Linked DNA regions of Homo sapiens. The protein of the gene in region 3 purifies or fractionates together with the protein of the main gene of each other region. This does not show direct contact. Each region holds a gene or a part of one and is shown on either strand. Other genes may lie near its edges. The genes, in order: RNF139, SOAT1, ERLIN1 and INSIG1.

The links.
Region 1: the proteins of ERLIN1 (region 3) and RNF139 purify together in Homo sapiens (affinity purification with western blotting, with the first as the bait; one study listed by BioGRID). This does not show direct contact.
Region 2: the proteins of ERLIN1 (region 3) and SOAT1 purify together in Homo sapiens (affinity purification with mass spectrometry; one large-scale study listed by BioGRID and IntAct). This does not show direct contact.
Region 4: the proteins of ERLIN1 (region 3) and INSIG1 purify together in Homo sapiens (affinity purification with western blotting, with the first as the bait; one study listed by BioGRID). This does not show direct contact.

What each region holds. Positions count from the first base shown.
Region 1 is NC_000008.11:124,484,564-124,489,118, reverse strand, and holds the end of RNF139 (E3 ubiquitin-protein ligase RNF139), read right to left. Parts: intron 3,289-4,555; coding exon 1,475-3,288; 3' UTR 526-1,474; downstream 1-525. Other genes in the region: deoxyribonuclease TATDN1, read left to right, coding at 423-525. UniProt on the Homo sapiens protein: E3-ubiquitin ligase; acts as a negative regulator of cell proliferation through mechanisms involving G2/M arrest and cell death.
Region 2 is NC_000001.11:179,300,284-179,304,099, reverse strand, and holds part of SOAT1 (sterol O-acyltransferase 1), read right to left. Parts: intron 1,424-3,816; 5' UTR 1,416-1,423; coding exon 1,298-1,415; intron 1-1,297.
Region 3 is NC_000010.11:100,152,017-100,155,050, forward strand, and holds part of ERLIN1 (erlin-1), read right to left. Parts: intron 2,924-3,034; coding exon 2,844-2,923; intron 337-2,843; coding exon 115-336; 3' UTR 1-114. UniProt on the Homo sapiens protein: Component of the ERLIN1/ERLIN2 complex which mediates the endoplasmic reticulum-associated degradation (ERAD) of inositol 1,4,5-trisphosphate receptors (IP3Rs).
Region 4 is NC_000007.14:155,300,788-155,304,603, reverse strand, and holds part of INSIG1 (insulin-induced gene 1 protein), read right to left. Parts: intron 3,039-3,816; coding exon 2,914-3,038; coding exon of another isoform or gene 2,884-2,913; intron 2,354-2,883; coding exon 2,187-2,353; intron 1,858-2,186; coding exon 1,758-1,857; intron 780-1,757; coding exon of another isoform or gene 709-779; intron 1-708. UniProt on the Homo sapiens protein: Oxysterol-binding protein that mediates feedback control of cholesterol synthesis by controlling both endoplasmic reticulum to Golgi transport of SCAP and degradation of HMGCR.

The DNA.
Region 1 (4,555 bases), on a different chromosome or scaffold from region 3:
TACATAATAAAACCTAACAAAAAATGGAACAGTACTTACCCTTATTGAGTACAATGTACTTGTCAATGTTTAAAATGCTCATCATGACCCACTAATGAACATGCTATGACTCACAATTGAAAAGGACTCTTCATTTCCACTCAGTTAATGCTATAATTGGTGAACATAATACAGATGGCTGCTTTAATAATTTACTTGAACCTGGTTCTTAGCTCTAGTTATATGCAAGACAGTCCATAAATCTGTTTCCAGTTACTGGCAGTAAGTTTTTCTATTGATATTGCTGAAAAACTTAATAACTGTTAAGCTTTATTATATTAAAGGTGTGCCAATATTTTCCTTTGTGTGGAAAAATATTATATAGCTTTAGAACTAAATGTATACTTGGAGATTTAACCATTTTTGTTTTTGTTTTGTTTTAGTCAAATATTGGAGATAATGTCAGCAGTGAGAGATGAGGATCCACTGGAATTAGCCAATACACTATATAACAATACTATTAAAGTATTTTTTCCTGGAATATAATTGGTATATGTCTTCCACTTTCCATCATGTATGTAAAATTTCATAGTAAAACTTCCTGATAGTTTCAATAAAGAAATTATCTGCAAGTTGTCTAAAGAAATACTATATATCGGTACACACCATTCCCCACCATTCCCCTTCTTTTTCTCGTAAAATCAGATCAGGATGTTTTTATATCATTGAGTATCTTAGTTTAAAACAATTTAAAAAAAACTATTTTTGTTTTGTAATATCTTCAAAAGAATGAAAGGACAATTTTATGACAATACTGCAGACACAGAATGGCTAACAAATATACAATTTTACATAAAAAACATTTAGCACATTCTGGTTTATATCAAAGTTTAGTTGATACAGTTTATTTGTCAACCCTCAGTCTCTCTCTGAATCAGGACTTTCAAACTCAGCTCAATTACACTGCTACTCAAGTTTCAAAAAAGGTCCTCAGTTGCTTCTGGCAGCTAATTTTTTCTTTAGTTTTAAAATACTCTCTCATGTCCTTTATCCTCTGGTCAAATTATTTTATTTCCTTGACTTTAATGTGGTTTCCTGATTTGCATTTTCATTCTCCCACCCATTTCTAAAGAAAAACTGAGGTCCAAAGTTACATTATATAATTTCATTGAAGAATATTTGGCACAGGTGACGCACCATATGATCATTACATCTATTAAAAAGCTATTTGTTCAAATTTTGTCATAAAAATGTGAAAACATTTTATTCTATGTACAATAATGTACACAAATTTAAACAGGTCACCAAAGAGACCAGAAGTAATTAAAGAGGTATATTTACAGTAGCACATCACAGTAAACGGAAAACCATTCACAGATTCAACATTGATACTGTTTTTGTGCTTGGTTACACACTGAAGGTGAAGGATATTACTCCATTTTGGATGAACTGAATTTTAAACAAATACCTCAATCATTAATAAATGCTATTTTCATCAGTCAGTATCATCATTAAATTCTTCAGCTGCTGCGCCTGTGTGCTGAATCACTCCATTTCTTTCTCTTTGAACATCATCATCACAATCTGTACTGTCATCTTCGTTCAATTCCCTGTCAGATTCAGCAGCAGCTTCTCTTACAGCTTCCTCTGGAGTTTCATTGGGTGGAATAAATCCATTGTTGTTAGATACATTTGAATTATCCTTGATATCATCTTCGATGTATACTTTCTGATGGCACATTGGACAAGTATCTTGAATGTACAGCCATTTCCGAAGGCAAAGTGCATGGAAATAATGATTACACGGTGTAATACGAGCAGATGTTGTAAACTCATGATAGCAGATTGCACATACATCATTTATTTCTTGTAAGCGGCTCCCTTTTATTTCAGGAAGTGAATTAATTTTCTTCACAGCAGTCCTACGATTCATAAATGTCTTCCAGCCATTTTTGGCTTGTAAGTAGATGTTAAAATATGCATGTAGGCACATCATAAAAGCCCGAATTTTACTTCCCGACTCAAACATCATAGTGTAAGCCCCATTTCCAAACATTACAACTCCAAATATAAATTCAATAATACTGCCTGTTGAACGAACGTAGTAGACATAATCGTCAAGCTTTTCCCAGAGGACATTATAGTAGCCATCAATCATGAATAACGTATAAACAGTGAGAGAAACAATTACTTTTAAGCACAGTTCCACACAAAATGCTGTAACTGCAAACAACCATGTATTTAGTGCATAGTGATGCCAAAGAACATAACTGAGTAAGACAGGAAGAATAAACAGGCAAGCAGAGACAAACAGCACAGGAAAATGTCTACGAAAAGATGACACATGAGAGGCACTGAGAGACATTAATACAGGGTCTGTCATTCCATGGATAAAATGCAGGACTGCAGTTAATAAAAGGCACATGTTTCTACTTAAGCGAATAAGTCTCTCTTCTGGTCTTAGCCCACTTAACCCAGTCTGAAGAGCCAAAATAAAAAATAAAACAGGTGCAACAAAGCCAAGACGCCTGTCATCTTCCTCAGTTGATCCAATAAAGGCCAATATTCCAAGCCCCAAATAATGGGCTACTGAGGAAATTACAGCACTCATGCCCAGTACAGTTAGTGTAGAATCGCACCCACTAATTATAAGATTGCAAATGAGGTCCCAAAAATCATCCCAAGAAATAAAGAAGGAATCAGTTTCATTTGCCATCCTTAAGATGTACATTAACACTGTAGCCTGAGCTGTAACTCTTGTTAGCCAAAAGACTCGTAGTATGTCTGGGAAACGAATCCTCTTCCATGTGTCCTCCATCAATAACTGTAATCCGTAAATTCGATACATGTGCCTCACCAAAAGATAAACATATCGTGTGGAATAATAAAACCACTTCAGTTTCACTGCCAGGACAAACACTGTATTTAATGTGAGAATCAAGGAAGAAGTAAACAGTAAAGTCTCTCTGATGTGTAATGGTAGCTCTGTGATTAAGCCTATTACAGGAACCAAGAGATCCAAAATAATTAATTGTGAATAGATGGAATGAATCTGGAGTAGTGTAACGTATCCAATTCCAAATGTTAGCTGTAGAACGATAAGTGCCATCCACAGCGAGGGACCTTTTCGAGGAAGCAGCTCAATTCCAAAAGCTGACGTGTTGTAGGCACCATAGAAGTCAATGTGCAAAGAAGCATAATAATTCACCAACACTGAAGTTGCAGCTAACAGAAAGGCTGAGCTGTACGTGTAAAACTTGAAAAGTGATCGTTGTGACAAGATCAGAACAATACTGGATGCAAATACACCTAAAAGAAAGAAAGAAAAAGTCATTTGAATGAAGTATTTGTAAGAATGTTTCCCCACTAAGAGTTATGATATTCTTCCTTTAATTAGGAAATATGAATATTTTCAGTTATGAACATTAAGCCTCAAGACAACTAAGGCTTAAAGGGTAATAAAGGTTTTGTAAAGTCAGAGTTCAGGAGAACAGACCAAACATACTAAATTATTCTTTAAAATTTCATTCCTTACTTTCTAATTTCCAAAGTATTTCAAGTAACACTGTAGCTGTCCAAGGCACCAAATTACTAAATTATTTTCAAGATGAATTTGTAGTGGTACATACATTTTAACAAGTTTTAAAACTCAAAAGAATATGTCTTTTATCATTTCATAATCATTAAAATTAATTTTAAAAATTGGGTTAAAAATAACCCAAATGGAAAACATTTATTCCTATTAAGTTTTAGATTCATTTATTATTGACTGACTGAGACAAGAGTCTCACTCTGTTGCCCAGGATGGAGTGCACTGGTGCAATCTCAGCTCACTGCAAATTCTGCCTCCCAGGCTCAAGCAATTCTCCTGCCCCAGCCTCCCAAGTAACTGGGATTACAGGCACCTGCCACCATGCCCAGCTAATTTTTGTATTTTTAGTAGAGACGGGGTTTCACCATGTTGGCCAGACTGGTCTCTAACTCCTGACGTCAAGTGATCCGCCCGCCTTGCCTCCCAAAGTGCTGGGATTACAGGCGTGAGCCACCGCACCCAGCCAAGTTTTAGATTTTTTTTTAAAGGATTCTTTAGGAAATCAAGTTCAAGTTTTATACTTCCACTTAATTCCTCCTTTTCTTCAAACTGTGAACTCATGCCAGCTCTTATTTCCTACTCCTTAACTCTGAGCATTCTCCAAAGGGTCCAAAATTCCATTTTTTTTCCTCCTAGTTTCCTTCGGACTTAGAAACATCTTCCAAGTTCCCTTTTTCCTGTATAATGCTGAATCTGTTTCTTAAAATAGTCAACTCTTTTTATTGTTCTTCACATTACAAAAGTAACACTCAGAAAACCAAGACATGTTTTTAGAAAATGGTAATTCTCCTTCCCCCACTCCATAGACACCATCTTTCTTTGTACTCTGACAGAAATGCATATTTTAAGTAGGATTACAATAAACACATTATTATCCAAGGTTTCAACAATGGGAATGACATCTGAATACTCACCTACTTTCACTCCTACAACTGCAAATCTCCAAAGTTCTGAAACTCGACTTGCCTTAAACTAGAATCAGCT
Region 2 (3,816 bases), on a different chromosome or scaffold from region 3:
ATTTAAGCTAACCAATTCAATTTTTAACACCTGCACTAAAACCTGGACTGACTAAAACTTAATGAACTAGGACAATAAAGAACACTGAAAATACACAGAAATCAGAAGAATTTAGAATCTTTTTAAAAACTTGGGACATAAAGAGAATGATCATATACAGTGACAGAAAGTTTCAATTAAAATAACTTTTCTGTCCCAAGAACTGGAAGGAACAAACAAGCATGAAGTTTCTAATGCGTGAGAATGCAGGCAAGGGAAACAAACTGGGTTATCACTAAGTCCCTAAATCACGGAAGGAGAATTCTCCCCAGTATTGGCTCATCCTCCTTTGCATAAATTTCACATTTTATATCACACTAAAACTAGCCCATATGCCATATAAATATGTCATATATAGCTAACTAAGAGCCTATCAATAAACCTCATTATGCCAACTCAAGCAGCAATGTTTACATTCCTGGTGGGATCCAGCTGTTGATATTTAAGTTTAATTAAATTTAGGTAGGAAAAACAAAACTGTTTCTTTATGAAAAGAGATGAAATGCCAAAGACAACCTGTCTCAGAAGGTTCCGCACCTATTTGTTAACTAAACAATCCTCAATTTTCAAATCCTTGTTGAAATCAAACCTTTACAAATGTCACTGCAAAAATTAATACCCTGATGCAATAGATGACATCAATTAGAGTTGTGTTTACAAGTCTATCATTCATAATCATAAACCTTGACCTTAACAACAAAGGACTATCGTATTCCTCTTTGTAGTCAGGCATTAAGCAAACGTGGATACAAGAACTAATAAAACTCCCTAACTACTCCTCTCCCAAGATTTATAGCTCAGTATTGAACTGGGTTAGGCACCCTGCTAATTACTCACATTTTACTCATTACATCTATTATGAAAGTAGTTAATTACAAGAATATTACACTGTGATAAATCTAGTTATGTGTATGATTTTGGAGGTTTTGTCATTCACTTAACTTGGAGCTCCATAATGGCAAACAAATCCGTACTGATCACTGCTATAGCCCCAGCATCCAGCGGGGGACCTCAGCAATTATTGGTAGGTTACGTGACTGAATGAATGGTCTCTAAAACACAGCAGATACCAATAGATGACCACCAAATTAATTAACGAGAAAGGACTTATTGTCTAATTGCTTTGTTACTAGACATATAAAACTCTATCAATACCCATTTACAATAAAGAATTAAAGAGATGGCAATACTTATTCTATAACACTGTATTTGTTCTCTATTTCACTAATTCACCTAAAAAAAAAAAATTAAGCCTCACCATTACTAGGTGTCTCTAGGGACTCCTTTGCAGGGTTTCTCTGGTCTTCATCTTCCTCAGGATTTTCCCTGGACTTTGACAGCCGGTTTCTTAGAGACATCTTCTCTTCACCCACCATTGTATTGTCTAGGAAAGAAGGTGTAAAAAGCTTTCGTATTAGTCCGTTTTCACACTGCTATACACTACCTGAGACTGGGTAATTTATAAAGGAAAGAGGTTTAACTGTCTCACAGTTCCGCATGGCTGGAAAGGCCTCAGGAAACTTACAATCATGGCAGAAGACCAAGGGGAGGCAAGGCATGTCTTACGTGGCGGCAGGAGAGACAGAGCAAGGAAGTGCCACATTTAAAACCATCAGCTCTCATGAGAACTCCCTCACTATCACGAGAACAGCATGGGGGAAACTGCCCCCATGATCCAATCACCTCCCACCAGTTCCCTCCCTAGACACGTGGTGATTACAGTTAGAGATGAGATTTGTGTGGGGACACAGAAGCAAACCAATATATCAGCTTTGAACTAAGCATCTGGCTTACGTGAATTTCACAATACCACTATATTTAGGAGAGGTGAAATGTGATGATACATTCTCTTCCTTTTGCATTAATCATTTCAAAGCATTTTCTGGGTACAAGATACTCAAGATAACAAATCTGAAGAAATCAGGTCCTATAAAATAATTGGAATGGTTTTGAAGCCCCTTTTTAAACATAGACCCCACTCTTAAAGAACAATTTAGTTGAACAAAGCATTAAGTATGTAAAAAAAAAAAAAAAAGGATTAAATAGTAACAGGTAACTACAAAGATGCCACAGGGTGGAGTATGATTTAATAACAAAGTCAATGGTAAAAACAATACCTTAAGTTCAGAGACAGCAGAGATTAGCAGAAGATGTAAAGGTTTCACAGAAAAGAAGGTATTTTAGACACAGTCTTGAAGGATGAGAACTGTGCATTCCATGTGCAAGAAAGGATTAAAACAAGGACCTTATAAGCCCCGTTCAGGGAACCATGAAGGAATTGAACTACGACAAAAACAAGTTTTTGTTAAGTATCTACTAAGTGCAAGGACCCTGCCAGATGCTTTAAGTTTTCTCATTTAATCTTCATAACAATTCTGAAAAAAATTACCCTCAGTTTTCACATGAGAAAACAATGATTTAAAGTAGTTACTATCAGTGTCCTCCACCCATGTACCAGGAATACACCTGCAGTTGAACAAGCTGAATTTATAGGAATGCACACCACAGCCCCAGGTACTAGAGTCTGCTTTTCTTCTCATTACAGTAACTTGCCCAAGACCACACAGCTAACGACAGAGCCCGATTGGAACTGGCATTAGTTGGATCCAAACTACAAAGACCACTAACTACTGGGGGAAAATAGTTGGTAATGGAGAAATGTGATGAGGGAAAAGACTAGAAAGGAGGACAGGAGTCAAACTATAAAGGCCTAAGAAATTAGAAGTTTTTCAGGAAGGCAGTGGTGAGACACTTTAAGCACTAAAAAACATGATCAAAGATCAATATCAAGATAGTACAAGGTTTACTCTAAAGCCATGTGTTTCCCTAGTTGGGCATGGTGGCACACAGCTGTAGTCCCAGCTACTTGGGAGGCTCAGGCGGGAGGATGACTTGAACCCAGGAGTTTGAGTCTGGCATGGGAAACATAGCAAGACCACATCTCAAAATTATTTATTTATTTATTTATTGAGAAGGAGTATCGCTTTGCCCAGGTGGGAGTGCAATGGTGCAATCTCGGCTCACTGCAACCTCCGCCTCCTGGGTTCAGGCAATTCTCCTGCCTCAGCCTCCCGAGTGGCTGAGATTACAGGTGACTGCCACCACACGTGGCTAATTTTTGTATTTTAGTAGAGACAGGGTTTCACCATGTTGGTCACGCTGGTCTCGAACTTCTGACCTCAAGTTATCCGCCCGCCTCAGCCTCCCAAAGTGCTGGGATTACAGGCATGAGCCACCGCACCCGGCCAAAAAAACAATTTTAAATAAAAAGTAAAGCAGTGTTTCACTATGTGATAAAGTTTTCAAGAGTCTAAAGCAAGAAGAAAACAACTGTGAAATACTCATTACATTATTTTAAAGCTATATATATTTAAATTCTGAGACTACAGTTTTTCTTAATTTTTGTACTAAAATATCCTTTTCTGTATAAAAGGATGAAATATAGTACATGGTGGGTTTGGTTGTTTTTCAACTATCACAGCTTGGCAAAGTAAAAATCTGACAAATCTAGATCGGCTTTCTTCTAATTATTTCTGAAATCAAACAAATGAAACAATTGTGGAACAGCAGATGAATATATCAAGTAGAAATGTTATGATATCATAAGATCTAATTAAGAGGAACTTAAGGGAAAAGTCAGGGCTAATAAATCACAAGACGATGCCCAACTTACAATGGTCCAATTCTGTGTAAAAGTGACAGAGGAAGCCACAAGAGCATCTATCTCTTCATCAGAAATGATGAGAGAAGTAAGAACTGAAAACTAAACTTTGAGGG
Region 3 (3,034 bases):
GGTGGAACAGATGAAGTGTAAGTTCTCTGTAAATCTGAAGAGTCCGTATAATGATTGTTCCCACTTAACCCCTTGGGCCACATCTTGATATGGAGAACATTTCCACCTCTTGCATCAACCTGTGCTCTCTTTGTTTTGGATGACGTTCTCTCCAGAGGGTTCAAGAGCCTCCTTAGAGGGGAGTGAGCTTTCTCTTCCAGTCCTAATATCTGAATATTTCAAAGCACATGAGGAGTCCACGAACATGTTAGGGATGTTGCTGCCAAAATAGATCTTACTGTTAGAAGCAATGGCCTGGTACTTTTTGAGCTCCAGATATTCCGGGGTCAACTTGTGCTGTGTGGGAGCAAACAAGAGCAAAGGCATCAGAATACTCTGGTGCAACAGTCTTCTCTCTCCCTATATACATTTCACCTATTGCTCTCCTGAGTATCATGAGTCAAGTCTGAATAACTGCCAATGACCCTCTCTCACTTTGGAGAGTGGCTATCACATTAACAGCTGCGTTCCTGACTTAAAATTCCTTCATTAAGCTCCTGACTTAATGCAAGAGAAGCTGTTCACTTTTTAATAAAAGGATGGGGGAGTTGGAAAACAATTTGTGATAACTAATGATAATAACTAATATTTCTAAAGTGACTTTCATTTCATCTAGTTGAATTCAACCTGGAATTGGTCTGGAGTTTCTGTTGATTCTCTTTTCTAAAAAAATTATTTTTATTTTTGTAGAGATGGGGTCTATGTTGCCAGGCTGGTCTCAAACTCCTGGCCTCAAGCAATCCTCCTACCTTGGCCTCCCAAAGTGTCGGAATCAAAGATGTGAGCCACTGCACCCAGCCTTTTTTTTTTCTGGAGATGAGATCTCACTCTGTTGCCCAGGCTGGAATACAGTGGTTCAATTATAGCTCGCTGCTGCAGCCTCAAACTTCTGGGCTCAAGAGATACTCTCATCTTAGCCTCCAGGGAGGCTACAGGAATGAGCCATCATGCCTGGTTCTCTGTTGATTCTCTTGAGAGAGATACACAGGTCAGTGGATGAGAGCAGAACTTCAAAGGAAGGGCTGGTGCTCATTATCTTATCATTAGCTGTGATTCTGCTTTTCTTGAACAAATTCTAGAACTAGAATAAAATCTCAAGTTGTCACCTGATCTGGCCTTCTGCCTTTCCCCAGAAGCTGGATGTTTAAGCTGCTTGTGACAGACAGATGTTTGTCGACCACCAGATCTATGTGACAGTGTTTTGTTTAAATCAGGATGCCAAGATGTATCTAACCAGAACCTATCTGGGTTTGATTAAAACTCGTCGACCACCAGATCTCCCTCTGTCACACTGTTTTGTTTTGTCTAAATCAGGATGCCAAGATGTATCTAACCAGAATCTATCTGGATTTGATTAAAACCCATTTCCACTGTTCCCTGTAACATATGCCTTTCAAAGCCCCTCAGACCCTGCTCTGTGATCCTCTCCTTATCTTGAGTCCTGGCCTGTCCCCCAGGCAAAAGTCCATCTTGTCCTTCACAGTCCTACAGCATTTATTTTCTACACTTTGACATCTTTCACTCTTTGGATCTCTATCTTCTCCAGGTGATTCATATCCTCTGTCGAAACACTCCAATCAAATCTGGTCATAGTGCACAACCACATTTCTTCCTCAAGCCTTTTTAATATAGGTTAGTATCTGAGTCACATTTTTCAAAATGGCATAAAACTACTGCCCCTTTCTGAATAAGGTAGACCTCAATGGCAAGGTCTTGAAACTTGTGCCTGACGAGCTTCTCCCATTAGATTTGGACTCCTAGTTTCCTCAACTGGAGTTTCCTGTCATGCCTTTCTTTTGGCCAAATTCCATTCTGTGTCTATAGAACTGTGTCTTTCAATGTTATGTTCATTTTAAAATTTATATTGGTTTTCAAAGTACTGACAACTCTCATTCTATCATCTTATCATTTCTTCTAAATACGGATTATGTTGTTCCTTTCTAAATTAAAAGCCCTGTCTATATCTTAAAACTTGACTCTAATCCTTCAAACTGCATCATCCACTTTAGTAATCTCTTTCTCAACCCTTTATCTGTTCCAATCTGCTCCACGATAACCTTATAAATCTTGGACATACCCTTCCCTTCTCAGAATACTATCGGAGTTCTAGCTGCCTCTTAAATAGCCCCTGCTCACTAGCCCTGTACCGTCTAGCCAGCTTACCCCAGTCCTTACACCAAATTATCACCTATATATCACCCAACCTGCCTTCTCAAGTTATCCCACATGAAATTCCTCATGACTGGAATAGTTTTTTAAATCCAATAAACAAGGAGTACTCAACAAGGGGCATATGGAAATACATGCATGTGTGTGTGGCAGTTAAAACAACTGGTGACCACTACTGACATTCAGTAGACAAGGGCCAGGGATACAAAATATCCTACAATGCATGAGATGGTCTTCAACAATGAAAAAGTATCTCAACCCCAAATGCCAGGAATGCCTTTGATGAGAAATACTGCTCTAATCAAGCTAAGTATCTACCAAAAAAACTACCTTATTTGGAAAGCAATTCTAAATAGACTTTACTCTTCTGTCACTCTTATTTCAGAAGACCTTCAACTTAATTAATTATTCAGCCTTATATAGCAGTACAAATGAATGGAATTACGGCATTTGGCCTGTGTCCCTACCCAATCAATGTGAAATATTTCTTGCTAACTGACTAATTCTGGAGGATGTCTTGGTCACTACACTTTCTTGACAATGGATAAAATCACTTCTATCATATCAGAGCTCCTGAAAAGAGAAAGCAAAACCCCGAAATGCATCATTAGGAAAGTGGCCAGGGAGCCAGTCACCTTGTTTGAGGTGGCATATTTGTGTGCAGCATAATATTCAGCATCTGCTTTCGCTTTCTCTCGGGCCAGGAATGCAGCATCTAGCAAATAAACAAAGGAAAGGTGTCAATCCATTCCCTCAGCTAGTTAAGAGTCCCTTTCCCCACTGCTTAATATTGTGACTGCTTATTTCACATTGAAAGTTTTAAAAA
Region 4 (3,816 bases), on a different chromosome or scaffold from region 3:
TCTACCTCCACCAAAATAATGCTTATTTCTTAAAACCGATTTAAAAAGCCTTGACATATAACAGCACCAACCTATCAAACAGAAATAACCAACTCTTTAAATGTTATTCAAGTTGTAGTTATAATGTGTAATTAGTCAATCTGGTTGAGGACAATTTTATTCTAAAAACCTTCTTAGGAATTCTCTCCCAAAGAGTACCGAAACAAAAATCTCAAAGCAAGAAAGCAATGATGGAGTTGCCAGCTCTCCTTTGAAGACTATTAACGGGGATGATGGCGAATGCATGAAAACAACATACTATTTCCATGTGGGACCATCCGACCAGATTTTTAATATTAAAAAAAGCAAGGCCAGGCTCACGCCTATAATCCCAGTGCTTTGGGAGGCCAAGGTGGGAGGATGGCTTGAGCCCACGAGTTCGAGCCCGGCCTGGACAAGGCAGGGAGATAACATCTCCACAAAAAGCAAAAAAGTTAGCCGGGTATGGTGGCATGTGCCTGTAATCCCAGCTACTCGGGACGCTGAAGCGGGAGGATTGCTTGAGTCCGGGAGCTCAAGGTTACAGTGAGCTATGATGGCACCACTGCACTCCAGAGCTCTGTCTCAAAAAAAAAAAAAAAAAAAAAAGGCAAGCAAAGTCCTTTCTTCTCCATCATGAGAAATTTGGCAGCAGAGAGTCAGTAACCAGTGGAAGACTGCAAATTCTACCTGTAATTACTTCTGGTTTTGTGAAACAGCCAAGTGGTCTTCAAATTCAACTCCTCACAGAAGGGTATCAGCTGGCAAAAATAAATGTACTGTTTTAAAAATAGCATGAGGTACTAAGATAAGTTTTCCCAGAGCTTATCTCCGAGAGCAACAGCTCTAGGTTTTTGTTGTTTTTTTTAATTTACTTTCTTTCAGCCTGCCAAAGTCAACTCAAAATAACATTTAAAAGTCCACCTCTATGTTTTTAAATTGAAGTGCTAAGATGTCAATTTTTAACTAATGAGAACTGCTAAAGCCATCCTGGAGTTCACTACCTTTCCGTCTCCCTCAGGGGGGCTGTGAGAGAAGCTCTGCGGGGTAGCACTGCTTTCTCCTGCAGCTGAGAACAGATGCAATGTTCAGGCAGGACAGTCCGTCTACATGGTGACCCGGCCACGTGCAGCGGTGCTCTCATCACCACTTCTCCATGCCCAGGGCCACCTGCCCCACAGAAAGGTGCTGCCTGCCTGAACCAGGCTGTCCCCTTGCCCACCCACATTAGTCCCTGCCCTGGCCCGAGACAGACTCTGCAGCCTCAGGCTCGATTTGCTTGACTGTGGACTAAGAGGCCAGCATCATCTGCATCCACTCTGATTTTGTGAAAAGAAACACTGGTGGACTGATGCTCAGGGAGCAAAGTATCACTGCATGAGGTCATCCAGATCTGCTTCCGATGGTGAAGGAGGAGGGGACACTCACACACCAGTCACTTTCTCTACTGCTTACTACAGAAATTTCAAGAATTCAGAACACTGACCACATCTGCAATTCAAAGGGGCAGTGCGAGGGCTCTAGTTCCTTTTCTAGATCAAATATTATGAATTTTTATAATTTAGCAAAGAATTACCTGGGTATCATTACCTATTTTTTTAAATATAAGCTTTTCTCAGTAGTTGTCACTCAAGTCTGAACCAGAATATATGAACGCAAATTTGAATGTATCATGTAAAGTCATTCTATCAAGGTAAAGAGACGCAAGTTTTAGAAGATAATATGATCATTTCACTTACCATAGCTAACTGTCGTCCTATGTTCCCCACCGTGACGCCTCCTGAGAAAAATATACAAGGGAGCCAAGAACGAATATAGAGGAAATCTGGGGATGTATACCTGGAGCGAGAAAAGAAACTGTACCTTAGCAGTCAATTTCACCTGGCTCAATTCTACATCACAGATTCTCTGTAGTGGGGATATGCAGAACGCATATCAACCATCCAATGTTACGAATGTTCATATTTGTTTGGTTGTAACTGCTACTACTTGGTTTTCCTTTGCGTTACATTAAGTTATGGATAGCAGCATTTTTGAGAATTTCATGCCTAAATCTGTATCATTCTATATAAAAAACAAATAAAATATGAAAATATCTAAGCTTAGTGGATGTTTTAATGAAAGTTAAGTAAGCTTTCCAAAGCCAATATTTGAAAACACACACTTACTGATAGACACCATTATACACGAGAAACTGCGTGATCAGCGTAGCTAGAAAAGCTATGGTGATCCCCAGCCCAAGGCCACTTCTGGAACGATCAAATGTCCACCAAAGGCCCAAAGATAGGGCTGCTAAAGTCAAGGACAGCTGGACATTATTGGCAAAATCCAATTTCTGGTGATATAAAAGTTAAGGAAAAGTTTGCTGACTCTTATTAAGATAAAAAAACGTAAAACCACAAGGGTTAAAAACATGGGTATTTTATTATTGTACCACAGATAATTCACTGTCCATAAAAACTGTGTAATAAGCTAAAGAAAGGATTTGTTGGATACAGGTTACAGTAATCATTAAGATCACCTGAAATCTCCCTGCCATCACTGAGTCAAAAACTTAACCATAAGAATAAACTTGCTGAAAGCTATATATAAAGTGCTTATATATATTTATATAAATATATATTTATTATATATATTATATATATTTAAAAATATATATAATATATATAAAAATATAAATAAATATATATTTATTTTGACCATAAAACAATATATTTTACTATGAAGTCATCGATAGCCCCATTCTTCTTTCTCTTTTTAGTAATCTGAAATGGGTAGGTACCACCATCATGTCTGTATTATGACATGGAGTCATTTGAGTATATAACAAAACAAAACGCTTCAATATATAACCTAAGAAGATACTCTGGACGTAGCACAGAAAATTAAGGATACAGCACTGGCGTGGTTAATGCCAACAAAAACTGCTATGCAGCGCATGACACTGGCCCATTCTCTCTTAAATTTGTGGGGTTCTCCGAGGTGACTGTCGATACAGGGGTACAGTAGGCCAACAACAGCTGTTTTAAAAAAGTTGACAATGTTAGAATACAGCAGATTCAAGTTCCAGAATTTCAACGTGGTCATTAGTAACACAGTACATTACTCAAACCAGTCCTTTTCCTAGAAAAAATTATCAGCTATAACTTCAGAGTGATTTTATATTCTTGTTCTCTTTGAGTACCACTCCCACAAAATTGTACTGTTTGGAAAAGTTTTTTAAAAATCACTATTATTTAGTGTAGTTGAACATGTCTCAGTAAACACAGGAAGGAATCAAGCAGGGATTATTCATATTAATATGAGCAATATGTAACCTTATATTTAATATCCACATTTGCCTAAAGCACACAGAACTTAAATGACTATGTAGTTCACCTTGTCTTTTCATCCGGTGTGATTTCTATCTTACAATAAAAAGGTTAGCATCTGTCCACACCCTGTCACATCACAGCTCTGACACTCCTGCCACCACCCAGTACTGGGGCTGGGCACGTGATGAGATACATATTTGCTGATGTGACTTTGACAGTCTGGGTCACATGCTCCTAGAGTGGCCCTGGAGTTGATTTTCGGGGGTTCTAGCATGTTCTGTACGAGGCACTGAGCACCTACTGTGCACACATGCACATGGGCAAGTACGGGGCGAGACAGCCCCACACAGGCTTCGCTTATTCTCCATCTGGTTCCCGCATGGTCAAGCCTCAAGCTGCGGAAAGAACACCAGACCAAGAAGAGAAAACTCAGCCTCAAATCCCAGCTTGCCCTCTGATGGGACGTGGCTCTGCATGTTTGTTT